Homo sapiens: one gene and its partners. The protein of the gene in region 6 purifies or fractionates together with the protein of the main gene of each other region. This does not show direct contact. Each region holds a gene or a part of one and is shown on either strand. Other genes may lie near its edges. The genes, in order: FABP5, FARSB, ADNP, DSC1, NUP155, SLX4 and NUP50.

The links.
Region 1: the proteins of SLX4 (region 6) and FABP5 purify together in Homo sapiens (affinity purification with mass spectrometry; 2 studies listed by BioGRID and IntAct, with this or other methods). This does not show direct contact.
Region 2: the proteins of SLX4 (region 6) and FARSB purify together in Homo sapiens (affinity purification with mass spectrometry; 2 studies listed by BioGRID and IntAct, with this or other methods). This does not show direct contact.
Region 3: the proteins of SLX4 (region 6) and ADNP purify together in Homo sapiens (affinity purification with mass spectrometry, with the first as the bait; 2 studies listed by BioGRID). This does not show direct contact.
Region 4: the proteins of SLX4 (region 6) and DSC1 purify together in Homo sapiens (affinity purification with mass spectrometry; 2 studies listed by BioGRID and IntAct, with this or other methods). This does not show direct contact.
Region 5: the proteins of SLX4 (region 6) and NUP155 purify together in Homo sapiens (affinity purification with mass spectrometry; 2 studies listed by BioGRID and IntAct, with this or other methods). This does not show direct contact.
Region 7: the proteins of SLX4 (region 6) and NUP50 purify together in Homo sapiens (affinity purification with mass spectrometry; 2 studies listed by BioGRID and IntAct, with this or other methods). This does not show direct contact.

What each region holds. Positions count from the first base shown.
Region 1 is NC_000008.11:81,279,220-81,283,747, reverse strand, and holds the start of FABP5 (fatty acid-binding protein 5), read right to left. Parts: upstream 3,213-4,528; 5' UTR 3,153-3,212; coding exon 3,074-3,152; intron 2,809-3,073; exon of another isoform or gene 2,704-2,808; intron 2,416-2,703; exon of another isoform or gene 2,324-2,415; intron 383-2,323; coding exon 210-382; intron 1-209. UniProt on the Homo sapiens protein: Intracellular carrier for long-chain fatty acids and related active lipids, such as endocannabinoids, that regulate the metabolism and actions of the ligands they bind.
Region 2 is NC_000002.12:222,649,186-222,653,154, forward strand, and holds part of FARSB (phenylalanine--tRNA ligase beta subunit), read right to left. Parts: intron 1,715-3,969; exon of another isoform or gene 1,101-1,714; intron 1-1,100.
Region 3 is NC_000020.11:50,900,127-50,904,095, reverse strand, and holds part of ADNP (activity-dependent neuroprotector homeobox protein), read left to right. Parts: intron 1-94; coding exon of another isoform or gene 95-99; coding exon 100-207; intron 208-1,986; coding exon 1,987-2,079; intron 2,080-3,969.
Region 4 is NC_000018.10:31,152,778-31,156,746, forward strand, and holds part of DSC1 (desmocollin-1 isoform Dsc1a preproprotein), read right to left. Parts: intron 3,386-3,969; coding exon 3,266-3,385; intron 2,153-3,265; coding exon 1,997-2,152; intron 1-1,996. UniProt on the Homo sapiens protein: A component of desmosome cell-cell junctions which are required for positive regulation of cellular adhesion.
Region 5 is NC_000005.10:37,297,956-37,301,924, reverse strand, and holds part of NUP155 (nuclear pore complex protein Nup155), read left to right. Parts: intron 1-374; coding exon 375-488; intron 489-2,356; coding exon 2,357-2,477; intron 2,478-2,946; coding exon 2,947-3,057; intron 3,058-3,969.
Region 6 is NC_000016.10:3,594,607-3,598,575, forward strand, and holds part of SLX4 (structure-specific endonuclease subunit SLX4), read right to left. Parts: exon of another isoform or gene 3,555-3,969; coding exon of another isoform or gene 3,394-3,554; coding exon 3,191-3,393; intron 3,090-3,190; coding exon 2,773-3,089; intron 1,788-2,772; coding exon 1,547-1,787; intron 1,088-1,546; coding exon 999-1,087; intron 1-998. UniProt on the Homo sapiens protein: Regulatory subunit that interacts with and increases the activity of different structure-specific endonucleases.
Region 7 is NC_000022.11:45,166,804-45,170,772, forward strand, and holds part of NUP50 (nuclear pore complex protein Nup50), read left to right. Parts: intron 1-1,362; exon of another isoform or gene 1,363-1,364; 5' UTR 1,365-1,374; coding exon 1,375-1,443; intron 1,444-3,969. UniProt on the Homo sapiens protein: Component of the nuclear pore complex that has a direct role in nuclear protein import. Actively displaces NLSs from importin-alpha, and facilitates disassembly of the importin-alpha:beta-cargo complex and importin recycling.

The DNA of each region.
Region 1 (4,528 bases), on a different chromosome or scaffold from region 6:
GATTTTATTCACAATAGTTTGTGGTTTTCAACCTAGTAGCTAATAAAAGATGCCAATTCTATGATGAAGTTGATACTTTTGCTAATTTGACAAAATTCAATTCATAAAATAACTTTTTCATTAAGTTCTTGCCTATAAACAGTAAAATGTTATTGATACAGCCTATCATTCTAGAAGCTTCTGTGATTTCATAACATGTCACGACTGACCTGAGTTTTTCTGCCATCAGCTGTGGTTTCTTCAAACTTCTCTCCCAGGGTACAAGAAAACTGTGTTGTTTTCAAAGTGCTCTCAGTTTTTATGGTGAGGTTTTTACCATCACAAGTGATGATACAATCTGGCTTGGCCATTGCGCCCATTTTTCGCAAAGCTATTCCCACTCCTGTAGAATGTTAAGTCATGTTAAATAACAGGAAGACCAAAGTTATCATTTACATGATAAAAGCAATAATTCCATTGTAATCACTTTGTGCGGCATATTTTCACTTATTTGCTTATTGATAACTATTGTAAACATATATCCCACGGTATGAGCCAGCACTTTACATATATGAAATTCAGGTAAGCCTTACAACAGCCCTGTAAAAGGCAGATGTTACTGTCTCCATTTTACTGATGAGAAAGCGAGGCACGGAAGTAACTTGCCCAAGATCATTCAACTAGAAAGTGATGGAGCTGGGAACCAAGAGCACTGGCACCCTGGCTCCAAATCTGAGCTCTGGCCACCATGCTATGCTGGCTTTCAGAAAGTTAGGGAAGAAATGTGGACTTCCAAATTTTATTTACTCAAAGCAGTTGATAGAAGGTGGAGATAAAGCATTCAAAATTGCAAATTCAGGAGTTTGCTCAATCTTTTTCTTTTTACTAGATTCTGCCAACCATTACATTCTATGACTCCAGCACAGTCTGGCATATAAATGTTCTCGATAAATATTTGATTAATAGACTACACAAAATAGAAATTGATCCTGAGATATTCAAATAGCACAATCTTTTAAAACTCAGCAGCACAATCATGATGCTAACAAATGGGAAAAAAAATCCTACCTTTCAATATAAAAACTATTTCATAGGTATATAAATCAATAGAAATATATAACATATTAAATTATATTTTAATTTATGATCTATCAATTTCCCCTCAACGTTAACATGTAATTTATGATCTATCTCTTTCCCCTTAGAGTTAGTTAACATGTATAAGGAATCTTAGATCCAGGCCAAATCACTGTTTCATAAATGAGGAGACTACAACCTACGCAGCATGATTGTCTTGATGAAGAACACCCAGCCAGGCTTTAAAGTTCCCCTTGGAGCCTTCTCTTTTGCCAGCTCAGGGCTGGTGCCTTATGCTGTTAATTGAGTCATTATGTACTCTCACTTTGGACAAATAAATGGGCTCTGCTCTTTTCACATTGTGACTGCTCCCTAATGAACTGAGTCTTGACAACCTTCAAGACTCCAGAATCCTGGAAACAAGCCCTCCAAACCTACACACAATTTGCTTTCTACAGGCAGAGAAAAGTGTTCTTTGGGCCTTAAACTTGTACACACACACACACACACACACACACACACACTGTTATTTATTGGACAGGTGCAGTAAATCGCTTTTTCCAGAGTCATCTTGATGTAGGTTTACAAGGAAAAAGAAAAATACTGCCTTCTTTACTGATAGTATCAAAAATACACTCATGATTCACCATAAACCAGCCTTAACACCACATGGTCTTGGATAAAGGGTACTGAAGGAGTGATTCCGAAGTGCCACGGCGACCAGGTATCAATAGAGGGTCACGGTAGTTATTTCACCAGCGAGCAACCGGGTTAACATTTGTGGATACCGGCTTCTGAAGCACCCTCATAAATCCCAGCCATCCCTTAGGGCTGGAAGCTCCCTTCCAGAGAGGATCCATGCTATGCTAACTCCATCTCACTTCCTAGTGGCCTGTGACAAAGGTCCATTTTTGTTTGCAATTTATCCAGTGTCTCAATCAGCATGCAATCTGTCACTGGCATAGAAAAGGACAGTAATTTATAATGAAGCACTGTTTTGAGTGAGAAATGAATCTTACTACTGAGATTCATTCTCCCTCGGAACGCTTCAAGAAGTCATCTGCCTTCTGCAGGGCCACACCCATCTTGCATGCAGTTAGCCGCAGGAGGGCCAGGCAGTTTCTGTTACGGTTTTCCAGCAAAGCCCACTGCCTCCTTCCTCCTCACCCTCAAGTGGCAGAGGCCAGGATGGCAACACACGGCCACCCCCAGGCCTCATTGCGCTCCTCCCACAGGCCACCCGCCCACTGCGGCGCCCCGGCCCGGCAGTGCCAGCAGCAGGTCGGCACCGCCAGCGCCACGCTTCTCGGGGGCCCTGGTGTTCCATGGGGTACCAATCCAAAGGGTTCGGCTCAACTGGTAAGGGCGAGCAGAGGACCTGGGGGAGACGGGGCTGACAGAGGAATGCAAGCTGAAGCTGTAGCGCCACTCAGACCCCTCCACAGGATTTCTGCGGGAAACTGCGCGCCAGCACCGCGTCCCCATGAAGAAAACGGAGGGTGACCTGCGCGCCACAGGGAACAAAAGATGCGACAGGGAGGGAAAGGGGAGTGGGTGCTGCCACGATGGGGTAAATGGGAGAGACAGAATGGTGGCAGGAAGGGGAAGGATGAGTAAAGGGGGAAAAAAGGGAAATACAGGGTCGCCTGGAGGGGGTCGAAAGAAGTGCAGCGTGAGGTGACGGGTGCGCGCGCTAAAGGACAGGAAGCAATGCGGAAGGGCTGCCGTTTGGGCGAAGGGAAAGAAGCAGAGGTAGGTGGACCACGGGGTGGACCACCTCCGGAATCTTGCGGCCCGCGGGCGGGCAAGAGGCGCGCACGCTCCCTGCTCCTCGCCGCCTGCCCGCGTGGTGCTGCGCGCGCTGCACCCAACGGCCGCGTGGTGGGGAAGATGGGAGGGGATGGGGGTAGGCCGCCGAGCATCTCCTGCCCCAGAATCTGGCACGCTGACGGGGACCTAGGGACAGACGACCGCACAACACGCCACGTTGCAGGCGCTGCCAGGCCGGGTGCCTCACCTAGCTCCTTCATGTATTCATCAAAGCCTTTGCTGTCCACCAGGCGCCATCTTCCTTCCAGCTGCTGAACTGTGGCCATGGTGGGTGCGGGCGGGCTGGCGTGCAGAGAGGGGTCTGCGTCGGCGTGGCAGCGTGCTGTGAGGCACCCGGCGCCGGCGGCTGCTTTATAACGGCGGCCCGCGCTGGGCGGCGCTATGCGGCCAATGGGAGGCGGGCCTCGCCCGGTCCCCGCCCCGCCCGCCGGGCGCCCCCTGGGCCTTCTCGGGGTCGGGAGGTGCTAACCAGCTCCTCTTGCCAGGGTACGCGACGGCCTCTCGGGCGCCTCCTGCAAGCAGGGACTCGCCCGGCGCGCCCCACGCCTCATGGACGCCGGCGCCTGCACGTTTCGGCGCCTCTGCAGGCCCAGGAAGCCAGAGGGGTCACCTGGAGGCCTGGCCCCGCCTCTCCTGCACCCCTCCGTTTGACAACATATCCACCGCCGTTTTTCCTTTCAAAATACCCGGACCAATCGATTAGCCCTCGCCGGACTCGGACTGCAGGAAGTGATTGATCGGCTGTTTGGTTTATTGATTCATTAACTACGGTGCCTCCCTGACCTTCTGCTCCTCGCCAGCGCACAAGCTCACAATCCACACCCTCCTAAGAGAACCTGCTCTCGCCATCCGCAGGTCTCCCTGGCCCAATAGTGGGGATATACCTGAGTTGAGCTAGAGGATTTTATCCCTGTTGGGATGGGGGACGTCTCGGGAAGTGTGGTTTCTAAACTAAAAGACTGCAGGAAGTGTCAACTTTAGTGACTGTCATTGCCATTCAAGAATGTTTGATTAGTTTATATTCCCTTCGTAGTGCACCCTTCACCGTTTCTTCTCAGACACCAGCGGGTTTCTTCTCAGACACCAGCGGGTTCCCTCTTTCTCTTGAACTATAATAATACCCTACACATGTGCGTAGAACATGATACGTTTCAAAGTGTACTCTTCACAATTTATTACTTGGTGCTCCCGGGTGCCTGTTGGAAGTCAGATGGACTGAGGTGAGGAAGTTGCCACACAGGCTGGCCGTTTCGATAGCGGTAATGTGCATTTATTGAGTAGCTACTAAGTGCTAGATGTGCTTCCTGGGCACTTTATAGACATTGGTCTCCACTATATTTTTGCTAGGGGTGTTATCCCAATTTTTCAAAAGAGAAAATAGGGCAAAGATAGTTCTCACAGTGGTAGAACCAGAATCCCCATCCAGGTCCGTCTCACTGAAGACCTTATGAAATCAGACCACACCTGACTGCCTTGGGCTCAGGGTAGCTGTGATGGAGCTCTGAGTAGACCACAGTCACCGAGACACTACTAGTTCTTGTATCATCCTTGACAAAATTGAAATCTGAGGTTGGTTTGCTATCTCCCAACATGCTGCAGGACATGTACTCCCCTGAACTGCATCCCTTTCATTTCAAGTCCC
Region 2 (3,969 bases), on a different chromosome or scaffold from region 6:
ATTGCACTCCAGCCTGGCTGACAAGAGCGAGACTCCGTCTCAAAAAATTAAAAAAAAAAAAAAAAAAAAAAAAAGCTGGGCCAAAAAAATTTAAGATAAAAAAAAGAAAAAACTATTAAAGGCTTGATTAATCTACACTAATATCAACTGTAGTTTAGGTTACCTGCACTGGGAAGTTTGCATGTACACAGAAGAAAAACACCTGTTCACCTGTTAAGTAGAGATCAGATATAAAGTAGGCTCCAAATCACAGATCTCACACAACAGAATGTCACATAAGTCCTATCAGGTAAAATGGTCTGAGGTGGCCTGACACTTTTGGCTTTGAAGCCAAGTCAATCAGAGTTTGAATTCTATCCCACTTATTAGATCTGAGAGTTTGGCACCTTATGTAAACTTTCTTGGTATCTTGTGTCAACATTACAGCTGCCTCATCTATAAAATGGTATTTCACAGCCATTATGGCATGGTACTATTGGAAAGATTTAAATGCTAATGCATAAAATGGACCTGGCATAGTACCCTGAGACACAGTGAGTCTACAATAATTAATAGTTTATTAGCAATTAATAAAATAAGTTCTCTTCCTTATTTTAATATTATATCCTACTGTTTAGCTTTTCAGGGTTCTCACATTACCAAAAATTGAACACAAAACATCATTAGCAGTATATTCTAGCGAAAACTGGTCTTAAGATTCCTGATTCAGACACTAAATTTCAATTTAACATCTATGTACTGAGTACCCACCTTATACCAGGCACTGTACTAGGTACCAGGGTTACAAAGATAAATAAAACACAATTCCTGCCTTAACTACTTCCTCATCTAGTAAAGAAGCCAGATGTGTAAATAAATATGACTGTGTTAAGTACAAGGTACAGGGCTGGCACAAAAGAAGTAATCAGTTTCTCTTATGGTCAGCTAAACCTTCACAGAAAGGATGAGTTCGTTAGGCAGAGATTGTGGGGCGTGAAACAGCATGGCAAATTTGGAAACTCTTAAGTAGTTCAACATGGATGAAACATAAAGTTCATATCAGAAGATATGATGGAACAAGGAGAAAGGGGTCAACTAACAATTTGCCCTCTTTCTTACAGGCAGGCAATGGAGAATTATACTGAAGGGATTCTTCGGCTGGGCAAAAACATGATTAGATCTGCATTCTAAAGACTGCTCGCAGAGTAGAGGATGGATTGGAGCAGGGAGTCTACTGCAATAGTACAGATGCGATAGTGAAGACTTCATTTAAAGCAGCACCAGCAAGAATGAGGAAGAAGGGATTAATATGAAAAACGTTAAAGAGGTGGAATGTATAAGGCTCGATGGCCGAATGATGGGAGGTAGGAATAGGGAGTGTGTAGAAGGAGTCTAAGATGACTCCCCGATCTCTGGTTTGGGGGAAAAAATGGGTGGGGATATCATTAACTAGGGCAGGTAGTAATAGGTACCCAGCCTCCAAGACGGCCTGTTCCATGATCCCTGCCTCCTTGTATTCATGCTCCTGTGTGAACTGAGGTCTGCAGCAATCACCTGAGTGAGTCTGGAAGCAGATTCTCCAGCCCAGCCAAGCCTTGAAATGACAGCAACCCCAGCTGACAGCTAGACTGCAACATGGTGAGACCCAAAGCCAGAACCACCTTCCTAAGCTACTCCCCGATTCCTGTCTCTCAGAAATTTTGTAAAATAATAAAGGCTTGTTTTACACTCCTAAGTACCAGAGTAATTTGTTACGTAGCAACAGACTACTAATACTTTGGAATAATTTGTTACATAGCAATAGATTACTAATACAGACTTTAGTCCCTGGAAGTGGTGTACTGCTGTAACAAAAATGAAAAACATGGGAATGGCTTTGGAACCAAGCAGTGGGCTTTGAGGCGTGTAAATGAAAACCTCAAGAAAGAAGCCTCATAGTCTTTGGTAAGGATGCAGGTGAGGACATGGAGGAAAGTGAGGTAATGTTATCAGAAAGCAGAAGAAGAGGAATCCTGGTTAAGAAGAGGCGGAAGGCTTAGCAACACCATTCCTTGCAGTAATGTGGACTGTAAAAAATCAATGGGGTGATGTAACTAAGATTTCCAACCAGTGTTCACAGTGCCACCTGGGTTTTTCTTGTGCTTATGTGAAAAAAAGAGATAAGCTAAAGGAAAGGCTGTTAAACAAAAATGAGCCAGGATGTTGGGGATTTAAAAAATTCTCATCTTCTCCAGATGTGAAACAATGCTAAAATTAAGAAATAACTTCTGAGCAAAGACCAAATCCAAGGCACTGCCAGGAAAACATGGTCCAAAGATAAAATCAAGGATATGACCATAAAATCTTAAGACCCAGAAAGATCAAAGGCACTAATCATTCCAACAAAGGGTGCTATTAAAAATTATAAAGAATGCACCTCATAAATCCAATTAATCACACAATAGGGCTTAATTAAGAGCACTGTTATCAGCAGAAACTCAATATATTTCAGAGATGTGTAGGTGGTGTGGCTTTTGACTAATAAAATGGAAGCCAGTAACATGCACCAAAGACCTTCCAAGTTTTTAGAAGAAATACATATGCAGAAGCATTGCCAGCTAGAATTGAAAGGGATAGAAATAGGATAAAATAAAGTCTTTGAACTCTCAAAATTCTATTAGCAGTAAGTAGACTGAGAAAACCAACCAGCTGTAAAGCACATGCTTTCTAGGGATCACTCAGAGGGGTGGAAACCAAGAGCCTAGAGGGCAGGGCAGACAGCCATGGAGAATTATTCCAGGCCTTCAGACCTAATCAAGAACATCCAACATTTGCCACTTGATTCCAGAATTGCCATGGACCAATGACTCCTTTGTGTCTCCCATTTCCGCCCCTTTGAAGTGGAAGGGCTACAGGAGTTATCCTATGCCCATCCCACCACTGTATGTTAGGTATATGTGGGGCAGATAAATGGTCTCTCGAGTCTCTCAGGCCAACAGTGTACTAAAGAAGCTATACTGAAGGAACTACACCCAAGGAGCCACATCCACATCTGGTCCTGATTTAGATGATGAGATTCTAGATTCTGAGCTGCTGCTGTAATGGGATGACACTTCTGAGGGCCTTGGGAGGGGGTGAGTATATTTTGCATATGGGAGGAACTGAATCAGTGGAGGTTAGAGGGGAAACGGTGGTAGTCAGCCTCCAAGATGGGCTCCAATAATACCGGCCTCCTGGTATTCACACCCTTGTACTGTTCCCTTCCACATTGTGCTAGGATTGGTCTGTGATCAAGAGAATATGAGAAGGGCTAGTGTATCACTTCTGAGCTGTTATTGAAAACAGGCGTCTATCCTCGGCACTCTCTTACTTACCTACTCTCTCGGACCTCTCCATCTGGGGCAAACAAGCTAACATGTGCTAAGTAGTCCTATGGAGAGGATAAGGTGGGAGGAACTAAAGCCTATGGCCAAAAATCAGCAAGGAACTGAGGTTTGCCAACAACCACTTGAATGAACCTGAAAGCAGTTTCTCCAGACCCAGTTAGGCCTTGAGATGACTACGGATCTGGCAAACACCTTGACTGCAATCTGGTAACAGATCCAGAGCAAAAACCACCCAGCTAAGCCAGTCCCCAATTCCTGACCCTCAGAAACTATATAACAAATGATAGCTGCTTTAAGATGCTAAACTTTGGGATAATTTAGTATGCAGTAATAGATAACTAAGTGGTACAGAACTATTAAAATACGCTGAATCCTAATTATCATATGTTTTATTCCTTTCAGCTGTTATTTCATGGGTTTCTATACAAAGAAAAATCAACAATAAAATCGTGATTACTAATTTCCTCTAACGAAATGACACATCAAGTAACCACACCTTAGGGGTGTATATGATATACACAGAAGGTTCTGCCACTACTGCCAGCTATTACACCACGCCAGAACAGGACTATAATTGAAGAGCAGTGATAATAAATCAGTTAACAAGAAAAGGAGTGGCAAGAGG
Region 3 (3,969 bases), on a different chromosome or scaffold from region 6:
ATGGGTAGGTTTTATGATCCTATCATCAGTGGAATTAGTAAATATTACAAGTTGTACGTGTTTTGACTTTGACTTAAATTTTTTTTTCCAATAGAAACTATGTTCCAACTTCCTGTCAACAATCTTGGCAGTTTAAGAAAAGCCCGGAAAACTGTGAAAAAAATACTTAGTGACATTGGGTTGGAATACTGTAAAGAACATATAGAAGTAAGTAGCATGTCATTTTTAAATTTTAACATGACTCAGCTTCTGATCCATTACTTTGTGTCAGTGGCCAAGATGGCTAAATCTTAGATGTGATTCTGAATTTCAGCCACAGCAGTAGCTTCACGAAAACATTCTCAATAGCATTAACTTGTGCCTTTCTCCCTAAAATGGGCTTTTTCATTTTTGCATCCTGAAGCAGAAGGCTACCATTGAGGACTTAAGCATGTCAGGCGTTGAACTAGGTGCCGTAAAGTTGTCTATACATTTAATCCTTAGAACAACCATGGAGGCGGGAGGCAGTGTAGCAGTTCTTATCTCCACTTCACAGATGAAGAACAAATAAATAGGCCCAGCCTTGCAGCTGAGAAAGTGGCAGTGTCTGTGGGACTCAAAGCCTGTTCTCATTCTGATACGCCTGAATGTTCTGGTTGACCTTCTTCTAATTGTTGAGGCGTGCTTGTGTGGGTGCTTGTTGTCTCTTTCCTTAGGATTTGAGCATTTGTTGCCCCTTTTGACCCATCATAGACTATTACTTTCCCCCTTGTATAACAGTTTGGGCTTTATGAACTGTTTTTCAAGCTGTTTTATTCTATGAGCTTTATAACAGCTCTGTGGGATAGCCATGCAGTGGTCTCCTTTTCAACATCTCACTGTTCCAGGTCTTATGGTTTGTTGGTCAGAGCCCCTGATTGAAAAGAAATGTTTGAAGCTGTTTCCCCCACTAACCTTTAAGTTCTAGGTGGCTAGGGAACATAGCTACCTTGTTTATCCATTTAGCCCCAGCACCTAGCACAGTGTTTTGCACGTAATAGGTGATCAGTAAGTGTTTGAATGGAATTGGAAGTAAAAAAGCAAATTCATTCATACAACAGGTTTTCTTAATTTGAGTTCCACTAATAATACTTGAAGAGTATGGCATGGAAACAGAAGCTGCTCAAAAGTTGACTTCTCTAGTCACGTTGTTCCAAGTGTGGAAGTAGCCCTTCTCCAACCCCAGAGTTCAGGTAGATCTGCCCAAATGAAACAGTCCATTCACTTTGCACTCTGTGGGGTCATCTTCATAGAAATAATTAATACCAACATCACAGTACATTTCTGTCATGCATTTGATTTGTTCCTCCTATGATTATTTATGTGTAGACTTCATTTTCCACCTTGAACTGTGAACTTTTTAGGAACAAGTGGGATTTTACCCTAAGACTTTTAATCTTCCTAGTCTGGAGGGAAGTGGACCATTAAATTTTTACATGAGAGTATAAATTTAACATCATACTGCTTAACTTTCTTTGAATAGCTTTCTTTCTGCCTTTTTGGGTTTGAAATTTGAGTTTTCTTCCTGATCTGATCTCCTGCCCCCTCCCCTCGAAAAAAATCTTTTTTTTGCACAGAACCAGAAATCATATTTGCAGTGCTGTAAGCAAACATTGCTATTTTAGACACCATTCCAGTACTGTAACTGACGAGTTAGAGTACAGTACTCTAATGAAAAGTGCTTTGATATTAGTGTGTGGCTGAATTTTTTACTTAATTAGAACTTCCAGCAATTTCCTTGGAAACCTGACTGACCATCAGGAAAGTGGTTGGTTGATATAAAATGTAGACTGCAACTTCCATATGCCTTTTTATATTTAAGAGCCTTATCACTCCTAGTTTAAGTCCTTGTTGACGTTGGTTTTCCTGTGCCTCTCCCCATCTTAGTTAAGAGGTGAGATTTACATGTAAGATTGGGTTAGCGTTTATACCACTATGTTTTTGTAAACTTATTTCACTGTTTTCTAGGATTTTAAACAATTTGAACCTAATGACTTTTATTTGAAAAACACTACATGGGAGGATGTAGGACTGTGGGACCCATCACTTACGAAAAACCAGGTAAGTGGCACAGGAGACTTCCTCAGATGGCAGCATGCTTGGTATACTCCCTTTTCAGCTCTAGGCCTTTTATAGCGGTGCAGTGATTGCGGGCAAGTGCCAAACATCGAAAGTGTCAAAATTGCATTTCATATTTTCCTGACCAGTGGGAAGACTAAGAAAAACTTTTTGTCCTTTTTTGTCATTGGACTAAAACTTGAGGTGTAAGAAGAAACAAAATTTTGTTACTTAAAAGTTACGAAGCCTGCTGTATCCCACCATTTCCCCTAAAAGTGCTCTGGCTCTATTTTTCTGCATCTGTGTTGCCATTCTTGTTTTTTCTGCACAGAAAAAGACAAGACCCTTCCTTACATTTAAGCTTTTCTTATTTCCCTATGTTGATGGCACCCAACTTCTATGGGAGGCCTGGGGAAGTGACTCTGTAGGATGTCAGTGACAGAGAGATAAAACTTCTTACAAATTGGCATTAAAAACAATATTAGCACTGCCAGCAAGTATCAATAGATGATGATGATGTCATATAGGTGATATTTCCTTCTGCATAGAGAGAGGTAATTGTCAATTTAATTTTTACCATTACCTATTTTAGGAGTGATTCTCATTCTGCATTAATGATCTGTTCATCTATCGGAACATACTTTTCAGGAAATTAGTACTCAGATATTTGACTTTTTTTTTTTTTTTTTTTTTTTTTTAAATACCCCAGGCAAAGTTACTAACCAGCAGTCTTAGAATGAGAATGCTTTCCAGTGGGACACATCATTTATTTAATTCAGTTTTATCAATCTGAAAGCCTCATAGCTGAATACTAAAGAAGAGTTGAGCTTTGAGGAGAAGCAGAGTATTTCATCATGGTTCAAACCAGTATCTGAAACAAGTAGGTTTCTAGGGAGAAAAGATAATCTCTTACCAAGCATGTCAGTTCACCTGCCTTCATCAAAGGACTGACTGCATAGGTGTTAACAATCATAATTCTGAAAGTTGCTCTTTGATATCAGTATATTCTATAATGTATTATTGGCTTTTAAATACCTCACCCTCCTCACAGTCTGTAGGACATTTTTATTTAACTTCTTGATTTGAATCAAAGCAGCTATTACTTCATTAGCTCTTTTGAAGTGTTCTTGGTTGAGAAGGAACAGCAAGGCTTATAGAAGAAAGCCAACTTTTCAAATCAGTCTTTCTTTTGATCAGCGCTGAATCTGATACTACACTGTACTTTAATCAGAGGAAAAAATGGAGATTTGCCTTTTTTCTATGAAAATTTATCCATAATGAGGAAAGGAATAAAAGATATAGCTTTATCTCTTGTAATTGTCTAATTGCACTAAAACATCGTGGGCCCTGAATTTTACCGCAGTCATTCACCACATAACGACATTTTGGTCAGTGATGAACTACATCTACGACAGTGGTCCCATAAGAATATAATTGAGCTGAAAAACTTGCTACCTTATGACATCATAGCGCAACATATGATTCATGTTTGTAGTGATACTAATGTAAACACACCTGTGCTGCCAGTCATAGAAGTATAGCACATACAGTTATTTACAGCGTATAATACCGTCGTGCATTGCTTAATGATGGGATGCATTCTGAGAAATGCCCTGTTAGGTGATGTCATTGTTGTACAAACATCATAAAGGGTACTTACACAGACCTAGGTGGTATAGCCTCCTATTACCCCTACGCTATATGGTATGGCCTGTTGCTCCTAGGCTACAAACTTGTATGGCATGTTACTATAAGAGAATACTATATACTGAATACTATAAGAGTGATTAACACAATGGTAAGTATTTGTGTTTCTAAACATAGTGAAGCATAGAAAAGGTACAGTAAAAATGCAATATAAAAGAAAAATTGGTACACCTATATTGGGCACTT
Region 4 (3,969 bases), on a different chromosome or scaffold from region 6:
TTTAAACTATTATTAAAGTATATTACGTTAAAAACATATTATCTTATTTTAACCTCTGCATTGACAGGGAAGTCTTCTATTCTATCCTGCTTCAAGTGATTTTATAATTGCATCAGGTTTACATCTTGTTGCTATACCTCACTTAATGAATTTTACTAATTTGCAAGTGGTGTTTCTTAATGCCAATTCAAACTTAACTGTGTTAATGGGACCTACAGAAACATGGGTAATTCTGAGGCGAAATTATTTAAAAGTTTAACTTTGAGGATAAATTTCAACCTATTTTATTCATTTACATTTTTTTAAATGTTAAAAATAGCAAAGTAACTTATTTTTAATTATAAACTGTTCTCTCCTTTTCCCTCTGGCAATGATCACAGTAAGAAGCAAAGATAGAAAGCAGGTTGGCAAACAGAACCCTATCAAACAATTCCTCAGCAAAATTGAAAATGAAGTGAATATTGCAACATACAGAGTATGAGCTTTTTATATCTCCTCAAGAGTGACTTCTAGTGTTAGATCTTTTCTCTAGTAAAGAAACTGTAAAAGCAGCAGAGAACTTACTATCAATTATTTATTTGTTTATGAGTAGAAAGATCAAAGTGATTGCAATGGTGCTTAGCTTACTTCTCCTGTAAGAACTTGGATACACTATTTTTTAAAGTAAAAGTGTGTTATATTACTAGAAGTAAAATATGTTTATTCTAGAGAATTTGGAAGGGAACATAAAATTATAAAGAAAATATGCCACTACAATCCCACCATGAATTTTGTATTTAATTATGAAACATCTAAAGTGGAAAATTTATACAGTTTCAAATTTTTCACTACCTTATAGACTGCTTTGGAGGATATCCTTACGATAGAATCTACTCCTTAGGATAAATTATAAGGTCTTTCCCTCTCTATTTTTTACTTACTAGCTTCATATTTCACACTCTTCCTTAGCTTCAAATTACACTTCAGCCAGGGTTTGTTGTTGTTGTTGATTTCTTTTTAACAAGTAAATATTTCCATTTCTGATGCATCTTCCTGGAATACTTGTCTACCACTTCCCATCCCCACAATTGTTAACTTCTTTCATAACTGCCTTGAGGTGGCCACTAACTACTACTCATTCTCCAGATGTCTGCTAAGATATTACTCTCTGAACTGCCCAAGTATGAGATAAGTTTCATTTTTATATTCTCCTTTAGCAAAGAACTTTATTATACTCTTATATCATTCAAGACAATAAATGCTTAATCAGTTTTATTCACCACCATTCCAAAAACCTACTATGAATATCTCATTTCATCAGATGAGACATCAGTCCACCAAAGAGTTATATAAAATTAACAGAAACAAAAGGATTTAATTATCAGAAGAGTTAGAATTGTCTTGTCTTTGGGTAGGATAAGATAGAATCAAATGAATTGATAAACTTGTTCTGGGTTACTAAGGAAGTAAAATGGTACTAAGGGATCTCATTGCTGAAGAATAGTGAGAGAAAGGGATGCAAAAAAAAAAAAGCTATGTAAGGGGCTAAGGCAGTGGATCCAACACTTACACATTTAGAATCACGTTGGATGACTGGATCTCATCCCAGAACAATTAAATCAGAATACTTGGGCATGGGTCCAAGCATCAGTATTTTTTTTCAAGTTCTCACATGACTTATAATGTACAGCCATGGTTGAGAATAACTGAGTCATTTTATTATGGATAACTTTAAATTCAGTAAAACTCTTTGTTATTTCTCCAGGATTACAGACCAAAATATATCCTTTAAAATTCCATCGTTATATTTTCTTTACCTCCCCCGCCACTTCCCTTATTATATCCACTGTTTTTCCCCATCAATGGTGAATAGAAATTTAAAGTTTATATTGCATATTAATATCTTGAATATTAAATCAAATAATTGATTCTTATAATATGTAAACAAGCATAGTTGAAAATATTAGTAAGCCAGTAATAAAGATATAATTATGAATAAATATTTCAATAATCCTACCGCAAACTGTTCATATTTCTCACGGTCAATGCTCCTTGTACAAAAGATATCCCCAGTGTCTTTCTCTATGTAAAACAAATTGAAGGGTTCTTTGTCCACGCCTGGCCCACTTATGGAATAAAAGATGGTGTAATTCTGTGCAGCATCAGATTGGATCTGCAGTAATAATTTAGGAATAGAACAAATACGTCATGATGAATATTTTCAACCTAACCTCTTGTGATGGTTTATTTTTTTACCACTACCCCTCTTTCCTACTCTCCTATTCTTTCTTTCTTCTGCTTAGGTGCCCATTATCTGCCATGTTTTCCGAATTTTTATTTGCATTTTGCATTGTGCAAAGCCACAAATTCTGTCACTTATTTGATCTCAACTTTTTTGTCATTTGTATATCTATAAAACATGTAGAGTAATACACTTTTCAAGTTTTATCTATTTATTCTTATCTTCATATAAATAATAGTAACAGTTTCCGTGATTTTGAATTCTTTGGAATTGAAAATTATGTGATAATAAAACTAGAAGTAAAGCAACTTTTCTTCCACAATTAATTCCTCAAGAATTAGAAAATTTTGGCCGGGCGCAGTGGCTCACACCTGTAATCCCAGCACTTTGGGAGGCCTAGGCAGGTGAATCACCTGAGATCAGGAGTTCAAGACCAAACTGGTCAACATGGCGAAACCTTGCCTCTACTAAAAATACAAAAATTAGCTGGGCTTCGTGGTGGGTGTCCGTAATCCCAGCAACTCGGGAGGTTGAGGCAGGAGAATCGCTTGAACCCAGGAGGCAGAGGTTGCGGTGAGCTGAGCTGATGCCACTATACTCCAAAATTTCAAAACTGTTCTATGTTTGCAATCCAGCTATGTGGCAGTGAGGCAATCTTACTTGGTAAGCAGAAATACAGGTCATTTTTATAAAAGATGAGTGTTAGTTTAAGCAAGAATTGAACTATGCAAAACATGTAGGTGTGCCTTCTGTACATTAGTGTTAACAAGTCTAGCATAGTATTTGGGTGAATTTAGACATAGACCTAAGAGCACCAGAAACTCCAAATATAAAACTTGTTTCTAAATTTCTAAATATGATATCTGTAAGAAAGTAATAAGATATACTGGGTCACTTCTATGGGACCCTAGTTCTGGTGAATAGATGATCATTATTTGTACCATTAGTTTAAACCTCTGATTCAATATGCTGTGCAATTCAAATGAAAAGTTTAAGAACAAAAAAAAATTTGGACACATATAAAATCAAATAAGTGAAATGCACCTGCTGAACGTGTTGTGGAAATGGACCCAACGAGTTCTCCATCAATGAAGCTGGAATAGGAGCCCATCGTCTCTTGCTGCGCTTGAGGGCTGTGTCTTTGGTATGTCTCTTCTTAGGAGACTACATTTGACAAGAAACAAAGAAATGTAGCATTGCTTATCATTTTTTGGAACTGTGATTATTTTACACATACATCAACAAGCAGATGTAAGGGTTACACATTACAATATCATGGCTAGTCAGCAAAGCATTTCTATTGATAAAACACACACACACACCTCAGACTACATTATGTTCCCCCGTTCTACCTATTTCTCTATTTACTCAGTTAACCACCAGGAAATGTATAGGGCATTTGGAAAGATGCCACTTTGAGAAAGTATAAACTCCCCCTAAAATAGATAATTCATTAATAAATATTTAAGGATCAACTTTATTCCACTAGGACTGGCACAACCAAAATCTGTTAAAACCCTCACTCCACAATACAATCATTTATACATCTATGTAGACACAGGTCAGCATTTGCTCAAGTATACTTGATTTTATATAATGTGGGGATTTTACAATGTGGATATAAAATAACATTTTTAAAGTCTTAAGCATATTAAGAGGAGTTCATACAATCAAAAAGAATTTAGTTGGGAAATCCTCTCCTAAATAGAATCATTTATTAAGAAATGGTTTTATAAGACGAAATTCAT
Region 5 (3,969 bases), on a different chromosome or scaffold from region 6:
AAGAACACATTCACTGTCTTAAAAACTATAGCCCTGACATGACACACTACTTCTACTCACATTCCTTTGAAGAGAACTTGGTTGTATGGCCATACCTCCCCTACAGAGGAGGCTGAGCTGTATAGTCTAACCATTTGGCTACAGTCTTGGAAGGTATAAGTATTGGGCAGCAAGGAGTCTGCCACAGTATACTTCCTGTGAAATCTATTATGTTTAGTTGATGTCTGTTATGATAATATTAGCCTATTATGATAGAAATCTTCATTTATACATTATTTTAGCAAACTTAAAGTCAGATAGTAGGATCCGTTCTTTCAAACGTATGTTGATTTATCATAAATAAATTAAGACATCCTGTTTTCTGCCCAAACTAGGTTGCTAGGATCCAACTTCAGATACAGGAGACACTACAAAGGCAGTATTCCCATCATTCTTCTGTACAGGATGCAGTTTCTCAGCTGGATTCTGAGCTGATGGACATAACTAAGGTAATAAAAAAGCAAGTGAAATTTTTATAGTAGTTACCTAATAATGAGAAATTTTTGTTTTTTATTTTGCTTTTTGTTTCATGGGGAAAATTACCTTATCTCCACAAATAAGATAAGGCATCTTTGGCAGCTTGTCACTGGGCTGACAGATCACCACTGCTTCATCTGACTCCTAGAAAAAGGCTAAGCTACTCTTTCCAGGCCAGTAGCTACAAAGAACCTATCATCCTCGCATGAGAGCTGTGTTAAAACCAGCTTATTTCCAGCCTGGGCAACATGGCAAAACCTCATCTTTACAAAAAAATAGCAAAAAAGGCCAGGCACTGTGGCTCACGCCTGTAATCCAACACTTTGGGAGGCTGAGGCGGGCAGATCACCTGAGGTCAGGAGTTTGAGACCAGCCTGGTCAACATGGGGAAACTCTGTCTCTACTAAAAATACAAAAATTAGCCAGGCGTGGTGGCATGCGCCTGTAATCCCAGCTACCTGGGAGGCTGAGGCAGGAGAATTGCTTGAACCCAGGAGGTGGGGGTTTCAGTGAGCCGAGATCATGGCACTGCAGTCTAGGAGCCTGGGCGACAGAGCAAGACTCCATCAAAAAAAAAAAAAAAAAATTAGCCAGGTGTGGTGGTGTGTGGTTGTAGTTCATCTACTCAGGAGTCTGAGGTGGGAGGATTGATTTAGCCCAGGAGGCCCAGGTTGTGGTGAGCCTCGATGGTGCTACTGCATTCCAGCCTGAGTGACAGAGTGAGACCCTGTCTCAAAAAGAAAAAAAAACTAAAAAACCAAAACCATCTTATTTATGGCCTCGCTTCTTGCCTTGGAAAAACTAACTTATCTTTGCTTAACTCTCTAAACCTCTTTCTCTCTCTGTAATTTTCTGAGCAGTTCCTTCCTCTTCATTTATTCTTAGACATAGTTCCAGGTACCCTGAAACACTTTGAGATTTGTCAGTATTCCTGTGATTCTTCAACCCATTGTTTATACAACACTAGTTCTAAAATACCATTGCAGGAGGTTTGTAGGGAAGGTGGGGATGGTTAATGGGTACAAAAACAAAATGAATAAGACCTATCTGATAGCACAATAGGGTGACTATAGTCAATAATAACTGTATATTTTAAAATAGAGAATGTAATTGGATTATTTGTAACTCAAAAGGATAACTGCTTGAGGAATAGACATTCTCCATGACATGCTTATTTCTCATTGCATGACTGTATCAGAACATCTCATGTACCCCATAAATACATACACCTACTGTGTACCCACAGAAATTTGAAAAAATGAATTTTAAAATTAATAAATAGAATGTCGTTGCAACATCTTCTTCCCAGCCAAGAAAAAAGCTCTACATGCTAAAATGTGTTTGAATGTATTTACCATACCCTTACCCTTTTTTTTTTTTTTTGGCGGGGGGAGACAGAGTCTTTCTCTGTCACCAGGCTAGAGTGCAATGGCGTGATCTCAGCTGACTGCAACCTCCACCTTCCTCAGCCTCCTGAGTAGCTGGGACTACAGCCATGCACCACCATGCCCAGCTAATTTTTTTTTTTTTTAAATTTTAGTAGAGACGGGGTTTCACCATATTGGCCAGGATGGTCTCCATCTCCCGATCTCGTGATCCGCCCACCTTGGCCTCTTAAAGTGCTGGGATTACAGGCCTGAGTCACCGTACCCGGCCCATACCCTTAACTTTTTAAATATGGAGTTATAACCAGCTACATACATCATCACATCTTTATATCATATTTCAGAAACTTTATGTAAAATCTTTGGTTATTTTTTAATTTTCAAGGAGTGCTTCACTATTAATCTCTGAATGTTGATCTCTAGTTGGATGTTAATTTTGGGATTTTCTCTCACAGCTTTATGGGGAATTTGCTGACCCATTTAAACTTGCAGAGTGCAAACTTGCAATAATTCATTGTGCCGGTTATTCAGACCCTATATTGGTGCAGACACTTTGGCAAGATATCATAGAGAAAGGTAAGTGTTCAGTTATAGGTATGTTAGCATACGTTATGTAGTGACTTGGTGGAGGAATGCAAGCTGCTAGTAACTAATATAATGCAAGCTGCTAGTGGCTCATGAAAATTGTGTATACCTAAGAAGAGAGTAAGTGGAAGTCACCTGGGTATGGTGGAGGATGATCATACACAGAATGACCCAAGTGAATATTCGGGAGAATACTCAGTGAAAAGGTTATTTAATTTATATTATTTGTGCTGCCTTATAAAAGATACTGAGACACTCACCTCAGAATCTAATAACCAGTATAACCTGGTAAGACATGAGAGTATCTCAGACAATAACAGAAACACCAAATCTGTTAATCATATTAATGTGACTATCTGTTCTAAAGTATTTTGAACCTTGAAACAGAATTAAATAACCAATGTAAACATTTCACATTAAAAGTAATTTGGGTTTCAAATGACATGTCTTTTTGTTACAGAATTGAGTGACAGTGTGACATTGAGCTCCTCGGATAGAATGCATGCTCTTAGTCTCAAGATTGTTCTCCTTGGCAAAATTTATGCTGGCACACCACGCTTCTTTCCTTTAGGTAAGCTGTGATCTTAGGTGCAGTCACGTATTTTCTGTTCTGATGGTTTTCTCCGTTGATATGGACAAATAACGATCTTTCGAGTAAAATAAAGAGTTTCTTTGCTATTTAGTTCAGCACTTTAATTCTGCCTCTCCGGAAAGACTTCCAAAGAATGGCAGAATTTGTTAATGAAGAGTTGAGTATGAAACTTTCTGTGACTAACTTTCCAAGTTTATATTACCTGTCTTAGGATTGTGCTGACTGACAAACTATGATTATATTGTTGGTAACCCTATACAAGTTTCTGAAGAGAAAAGAAAAACGGTTGATGTTTTTGTGCATAGGTAATCTGTGATTGATTCAACTGTTCTTTTTTTATGTTGAGGGCATGTTTTTCTTTAAAATAGCAAATAATTATGTTAAAACTTAGTGTTTGAATCCCTTTCTTAATGAGATATGGTGGCTATAATTTTTAAATAAGGTAGCTAATTATGAGCTATTTGCCAACCTACAAGTGTTTTCCTCAGTGGTAAAACAATAGAAGCAACATAAATACATCCATAAATTAGAATATCAACTACTTTTGTGTTATTTAAAAATATTGAGAGACATGAAAATCCTCACAATATAACTTTTTTTTTTTTTTTTGAGACAGAGGCTTTCTCTGTCGCCCAGGCTGGAGTGGAATGATGCCATCTCGGCTCACTGCAACTTCTGCCTTCCAGGTTCAAGCAGTTCTCCTGCCTAGCCTCCCAAGTAGGTGGGATTACAGGTGCCTGCAACCACGCCTGGCTAATTTTCTGTATTTTTATTAGAAATGAGGTTTCCCCATGTTGTCTAGGCTGGTCTCAAACTCCTGGCCTCAGGTGATCCGCTTGCCTTGGCCTCCCAAGGTGCTGGGATTAAAGGCGTTCGCCACTGTGCCCAGCC
Region 6 (3,969 bases):
AGGAGGAGAGGAAGAGCCGTCACCTCCCCACCTCTGCTCTGCTAACTGGGCAGTGGGAAGCTCCCCGCATGGAGGTGGCGCTAGGGTGGGCCGGGAGCCAGGACCTGCATTCTCCTTTCCTCTCCAAAACGCTTCCCACGATGGCCTCAACCTCTGAGTGACCCTAAGGCCCTGAGTAGCACAGAAGAGCAAAGCACTAGCTTGTTCCTCTGGCTCTTGCCAGTGGGTTCCCTGGCCCCCGTGGAGATGCCAGACATGGGGCTAGATGTGAACTCACAGTGCTGGCAGCTCCCGCACTGAGTGGGACAGGCTGCGGGATACCTGGGCTTTGAGGAGGTGCACCCATCCCCTGTGACGGACAAGCACCCTGAGTCCAAGCAGCTCGGGGACCTGGCCAAGAGGACAGCCGGGTCCAGTCTGTGATGATGTCCCTAGGCTGGCCTTGGCATGAAGTGCTTGGTTGACACTGACATGCAAATGGGAGGAGGTCCACTCTAGGGAAAAGCCAGTTCCCACCCCGGTTCTTCCCCAGACAGCGCACTGACAGGGAGGCCAGGCCAGGCTGCTCAGCTGTGCTCTGGAGCCCAGGACCCGCACAGAGGGGAGGGAGAGCAAGCCCTTGGTGAGCTCCCAACTACTGAGGAACGAGCAGAGCGTGCCTGGATGGGGCAACCGCGCTGAGAAACTGTGGTCCCTCTACACTCCTGGGACCCAGGACAGGGCAGGCTCTGGGGCCTCAACCCCAAGGTGCCCCATGGAGTCACAGACAGAAAAGGCAGAAGTCTCGTGGCAGAGCCCCCAGAGGGGCGCTGAGGTGGCTGTGGGTCCGTGGCTCTGCTCACGGATGTCAGGATGTGGCAGCCTTCTGGAAAGCAGAGGCCTTGAGAGGCCACTGCACTTGCGTTGGGGGCCAGAGGCCAGCGGTGAGCCAACCCCACCACACACATGGCAAGTGGGATGGCCGGGACCAGAGAGCGCGGGCCAGAGCCAGTTCTTACCAAGGTGCGGCCGCCCCTGTCCGGGTGCTTGTCCTGCGATGGCACCACAAACCCAGTCAGAGGAAGGCCGCCGGGCACCACGTCCAACCCTGAGTGGAGGATTCACAGGTTAAAGGAACGTCACAGCCCAGCCACATCCACCACCAAGAAGACAGCGTTGACCACAGGCTGAGCCAGCCCCTGCGGTGCCTCGGAAGGTGCTTGCTATCCGAGGACACCTTCATGCAAAGCAAACCCGCACACCCTGTCTCACCACCACTCCACCAGGGAGGTAAGAGAAGAGCAAAACAGACAGTTCACCCAGAGGATTCACTCGCTGTGGGCAGACAGCTCTGTCTTTGGTTAAAGTGGAAGGAAAATCATGACAGAGTTGTCTACACCACATTGACCTTTGAGAAAAAATGAAAGCGCCCAGAGGCTGCGTGTTCTCCCACCAGGTCAGAGCTGCCGTCGCGGCGGCACAAGAGCCAGTCCATGGCAGCCTCAGCCGCGGGGAGGGGAGGCCCGGGAGGGCAGGGCTGGCCCTAGAGTCCCACCCAGCATCTCACCTGCAGTCCCTTCCGAGCCAGCCAGGCCCCCACTGCCGGGCCACGGGCTGGCGCTCAGTCCCTCCCTCGCCAGGTCCACGAGGTCCTGCAGGGCCTGGTGCTCCCTCTGGCTGGCCGAAGGCGACGGGCCCCTGGAGCCACAGCCTGCAGTGGGGGTGCCGTGGAGAGCGGGTGACCTTCGCTCGCTCAGCTCTGAGTGCTCAGGTGGCACCAGAGGCGGCACGGGCTCCTGCATAAGGCCCTGAAAGAAGCCAGTAAGGAGAGTGACCACGTGGTCACTGTCATTGACGCACACACTGCAGAAGCCATCACATGTGGTATGCACGGCTGGACCTAAAACTACAGAGCAGGATGTGGGCTGTGGGGACAGACTGTCCCCGGGGCTCCAGCCACAGCCTGGAGCAGTCCTGGGATGCTTTTCCCCAGCACTCATGTCAACATGCTCCTCCTCTGTCACGGCCAAGGCCAGGCCTGTGGCATCTGTTTGCACAAAGGCTTGTCAGAGGCCAGGGGGGCCCAGGCCTGCCGCCCTCCTGAAGTCCTCCAAGCTGCCTCAGGCAGCTGCGTACTGACTGTAGGGCTACCTGCCGCACGACTGTCTGGAGTGTGTGCTCCGAATGCCAGTTTCCGGGCTCCATCTGAGGCATTTTGCCAGTTGCCCTGGGACTCTGTTTTTTTTTTTTTTTTCAAGACAGAGTCTCACTTTGTTGCCCAGGCTGGAGTGTAATGGCACGGTCTCGGCTCACTGCAACTTCCGCCTCCCCGGTTCAAGCGATTCTTCTGCCTCAGTCTCCCAAGTAACTGGGATTACAGGTGTGTGCCACCATGCCTGGCTAATTTTTGTATTCTTAGTAGAGATGGGGTTTCACCATATTAGCCAGGCTGGTCTCGAACTCCTGACCTCGTGATCCGCCCACCTCAGCCTCCCAAAGTGCAGGGATTACGGGCGTGAGCCACTGCGCCCGGCCGGGACTCTGCATTTTCAACAAACTCCAGGAACACACTCTGGTGGACACCAAGGGTCCTCCCTGATCCTACCCAGAGTACCATGTAGTTGCTGGACAGAGAAGAAAGCTGCAGCCACCAAGTGCCCCTCTGGCCTCCTCCCGCCTCTGCCTTTCCTTCCTGGACTTTCCATCACCTGGCTGTGGGTACCCAGTGTTGCAGTTCTGGGATTGCCAACCTCCCCCAAAAGCCTATCCATGTGCCTGAGGGGAGGGACTCACCTGGGCAGGCCGCTGGGGCACGAGAGGAGGGACCAGCCTGGCCGTGTAGAAGTCCTCCATGGCCCAGGCCCCAGTCAGTGCGCTGCCCTCCCACAGAAAGCTCTGCTTGCGTTCAGGTGGAGGAGGACACTGGCCCGCTCTTTCCCACCCTTCCTTTAAAATCCTGCTGGCAGGAAGTGGTGGCGTGCTAGACAATTCCACTTCCTCAGAGAGGAGCAGGGCCACACGGTCCTCTATCTGTCGGCCTGTGGTTTCAGAGTCCTGGACTAACAACAATGGGGGGGATACCGGGGGTTTCTTCTTGCGACTTTTATTCTCTAGAGAGAAACAAAAGCGACACCATCAACGGTGGAGTCGGTCCACTCACCCGGGACCTGCTGATGGCCTCTCCCAGGGTCACTCTTCTGATCACACAAACCTGCTTCTGGTCTTATCCTCTCAGAAAAGGCACTTTCCAGCCTGAGCGCTGGTACAGCCGCACCCGGCTCCATCTCCGACCGGGACAGAGCCATGGCCACCAGCAGGTCCTCGGACGGTGCCTCGTCCACCTTCCGCCTCTTCCGTGGCTCCTTCTTGCTGGTGGGTCCTCTCCGTTTCAGACCTCTACTGTGATCACTGAAGCTAGAAAACAGCCAAAGAGAAAAGTTACTGGGGCTAGAGGAGTGCACGCTTCTCAGGTTGGTCACACTGGTCTGGAGAGGGCTGGGCCTGAGAGAAAAGTGACGGATGTGGACCTGCCAGGCAGATGCGTCCCCCACTTCCACTGCCTTGTGTGAACTCATTCAATTCCAGGCCAGAAGTTCAACATGGCCCAGGCACAGGAGGGTCTGGGTTCCTTCACGTGCTGCTGTCCAGCAGGCTCATGGCAGATGTACGGAGCCATCTGTGGTACCTGCACATCCTCATGTGGCCAAGCCCATCCAATGGAGTCAACAATCGATGGCTCTGAGCAGGCTCCCTGGACTCCCACCACCTTCACCCATCAATACTTCCGATGCTCCTTACACGGTCCTGGCCACACCGGCAGAAAAGGATCCCTTCCCTCCTGCAAGGGCTCCACGGCAGTGCCTCTGTCCATGGCCAGAAGGAAGGGCTTCCCAGCTTAGGCTGCCGATGGTCAACATTATACCAGCCGCCCCGGGACTCTGCACTTTCAACGGGCAGCAGCTCGTTTGGTTTGGAGGAAATGAACAGGAG
Region 7 (3,969 bases), on a different chromosome or scaffold from region 6:
ATTAAAAAGAGAGGGTTCCCAGCGAATGGAAAGTGTATTTATTTCTCATCCTTTATATTTTAGAATCTTGGACTTTAATATCATTTGTAATCAGAAAAATAGCATAAACTTACAAAATTTAAAAATCACTAAAATGTATTAAAAGCTGACAGCCCGTATGTAATTACTCCACTGGCCATCAAATTGTAGAGGCCTTTGGAATACCAGCATTTGCATTTTACTTTTAGATACTAAAGAGTGATATGTCACCTCATATCTTAGCGACCACTTTGTGGGGTTGTAATACACTCTGTATTACACAATACACCAGAATAAGGAAGCTTACTCTGGTGTATTGTGGTGTTGAGAGCAAACAAGAGTGGGGAGAGTATCACGAAGGAGTTCAGGCAGGTTTAACAAGACCTGGCAGGTCCCCAAAACTAATCAGTAAGTTTTTGGGCGAGGTGGGTAGCAGGGGAAATGGAAAGGTTTTTTGTCCAGCTGGAGAGTTAGTGAAGAAGGCAGCACAACACTCATAGCGGAGCTCTGGGTTGTGGGTTTTCTTTGTTTTGTTGTTATGATATTAAGATCAGAAAACAAATCGTAAATTTTAAGGGATGGACAGGAGCACCCTCTTTGGTTAGGTGCCGGAATCCACTGCAGAGTTCACGCCGTTCCCCAACTCCTGCCCCTTCCACTAATGCCATCGTATTGAAGAGTTAAGCCAATGATTTGTTTTTGAAAGGTTATAAGTTCCCAGAATACTAACACACCCATGTTAATCATTTTGGACTTCTAATTGTCTTGGCAATATACAATTTGAAGCAACAAAATGTTCAGTCTTGGGAACCATGTATCTCTGTCGGCTGTAGCTTAAAGAACAGTATTCGTGTTGTGGAGGCGTTTCCAGCCCGTTATTCGTATTCTTACTGAAAGATACACTTCTTTAATGGGTCATCTTTAAGAGAATTTTAAATATTAAAATTATTTTCTTTATGACAAGACTTTCAGTATGTATATGCGTAGAATAAGTTAAGGACTTTTTGATTATATATACAGTACTTCAGATTCCAGATTTTTAAAAAATCAATTGATATTTCATTTTAATTTTTCCAAATGGAGTCGGTTTAGTGTTGTTCAGGACTGCTGGTGTTCCCTAGGAATCTTCTTCTGCCTCCTGGAAAAAGCCTTTATTGATTTGTAACACTGGGAGCCTAACAGCACCAATGTAAAGTTCTCATTAAAGCAGTTTCCAGATGCTTTTTTTCCCTGATAAAAAAACCAGAGATGTTTTTATCTCACTTCATGCTAGAGTGAATTTTTAAAATTCTTTATAAGAATTTATTCTTCTAGAAAAATAAACTCTTCTGTTTTCTATAACTTAGGTTCGAAAACATGGCCAAAAGAAATGCCGAGAAGGAACTGACAGATAGGAATTGGGATCAAGAAGATGAAGCTGAAGAGGTAAAAAGCAGCTTCCCTAAGAATGATTTCCTGTTTCTTTTGCCTTTTACATTCATTTTGGGGTTCCTCATGAAGACTTGTGACAGAACTAAAAGACCTTTCTAAGAACATCATGAATGGGAGATGACAAGAAATTATATGACCTGTACTTAGTGTAGATATTTATTAATTACATTTCTGTGACCTCTAGTTAGTGTAGAAATGTATTAATTACATTTAGATGTGCTTTTCCACTAGTGCCTGCTCCTTAAATATTCTCCTTAGTAGAAGCACTTTTCCTCCTGAGTTTCGTATACTTGAAGCATTCTGAACCCATGTTTGCAGTAAGCCATTTTAGTCATGACTGAAGGCTGAGTTAAGTGATGTAGTCATGAACTTAGCACACTGCCCAGATGTGAAAGTGGTACACCATCACCATCTTGGTCTGTGGTACTCCGTTTCCCTAATGCTTCTTGGAGGCCTGCTTTATTTCCTTTTCTTAATGGTAGACCTGAGACCCCTAACAATTGCATTTATAGGAATAGAATTGAGATTGGCCTAGTTCCTTTTCCAGCAGAATAAAAATGGTCTCCCCTGAGGAAATCTGATCATTTTTCCCTTATAAACAGTAGGACTGGGCAGCATAGAGAGATCCCGGTCTCTATAAAAAAAATTTTTTTTTTTTTTTTTTTTTGAGACAGAGTCTCACCCTGTTGCCCAGGCTGGAGTGCGGTGGCACAACCTCGGCTCACTGCAACTTTTATCTCCCGGGTTCAAGTGATTCTCCTGCCTCAGCCTCCCGAGTAGCTGGGATTACAGGTGTACACCACCACACCCAGCTAATTTTTGTATTTTTAGTAGAGACAGGGATTCACCATGTTGGTCAGACTGGTCTCAAACTCCTGACCTCAAGTGATCCACCCGCCTTGGCCTCCCAAAGTGCTGGGATTACAGGCGAGAACCACCGCACCCAACCCCCCAAAAAATTGTTTTAATTAGCTGAACATGGTGGCATGAGCCTATAGTCACAGCAATTTGGGAAGCTGAGGCGGGAGGTTTGCTTGAGCCCAGGAGTTCAAGGCTGCTGTGACCTGTGATTGCACCACTGCACTCCAGCCTGGGCAACAGGGTGAGACCCTGTCTAAAAAACAAAGAATAAAACACAGCTGTACTTATAGGATGTGGGCGAAGGATTACCCAGGTGCCGAGGCAAGAGACTGAAGGCACAAACTGTTTCAGTATAATACATAAAATAGTTAGAATAAGAATAGTCATAATACAAATTAGATACAGAGATGATCACGGGCATTATCAATCATTAGTATAAACATTACTAGTCATTAGCTTTTAATATTACTCTTTGTTGTACTACTAATATAACCAAGGAATAACCGGCAGATACAGGGTCAGGTGCTGAAGGGACATTGTGAGAAGTGACCTAGAAGGCAAGAGGTGAGCCAGCCCTCTGTCACGCCCGCATAAGGGCCGCTTGAGGGCTCCTTGGTCAAGTGGTAACGCCAGTGCCTGGGAAGGCACCTGTTACTTAGTAGACCGTGAAAGGGAGTCTCCTTTACTTGGAGGAGTCAGGGAACACTCTGCTCCACCACCTTCTTGTGGGAGATTGGATATTGTCCAGGCTTGCCAGTAGTCATCCAGAGGCTTGAACCCCTCCCTGTGGTGCTGTGCTTCAGTGGTCACACTCCTTGTCCACATTCATGCTCCTCCCGTAGTCCTGGTTCCTCTTTGAAGTTCTTAGTAGATAGCAGTAGAAGAAATAGTGAAAGTTTTAAAGTCTTTGATCTTTCTGATAAGTGCATAGAAGAAAATGCTGACGTACGCCGCCTTCCTTCTCTGCTTCAGCTACCTAAAAGGGAAGGGCCCCTGTCCCATGATCACGTGACTTGCTTGACCTTGTCAATCCCCTGGACGACTCATCCTCCTCACCCTGCTCCCTTGTCTTGTATGCAATAAATATCAGCACGCCCAGCCATTCAGGGCCACTGCCGGTCTCCGTGTCTTGGTGGTAGTAGTCCCCCAGGCCCAGCTGTTTTCTCTTTATCTCTTTGTCTTGTGTCTTTATTTCTTACAATCTCTGTTTCCCCCTTCGAGGAGAACACCCGCAAAGCCCAGTAGGGCTGGACTCTACAGTCGTACCTTATCAGCAGTGTGTTACCCCCAGGCCAGATGACTAAGGAAATCTGTAACCACGACTTTCAGGTTAACAGCATAGTGCTAAGTGAAAAAAGAAAAATGTTAAAACTGCAACTGTTTCCAAGCTTATTCTTAGACGGCCATCTTCCTTCTTTTGGAATCTTTCTGGTACTAGTACTTTTTTTCTCTACAAGTGTATCTCCTCACATATGTTTAGGGAAACCAGAATCCCAAGGATGTGAGTGTTTTGACAGGGTCAAAACTGATTTGGTGCTTTTTAACTAAAATCTTTGGTTATGGGGGTTTTTGGTTTTTTGTTGTTGTTGGTTTAAGATCTTAAGCACAGTTACATTCTGGGCTATAGTAACATCTAGATTACCATGTAACTATTTGCTT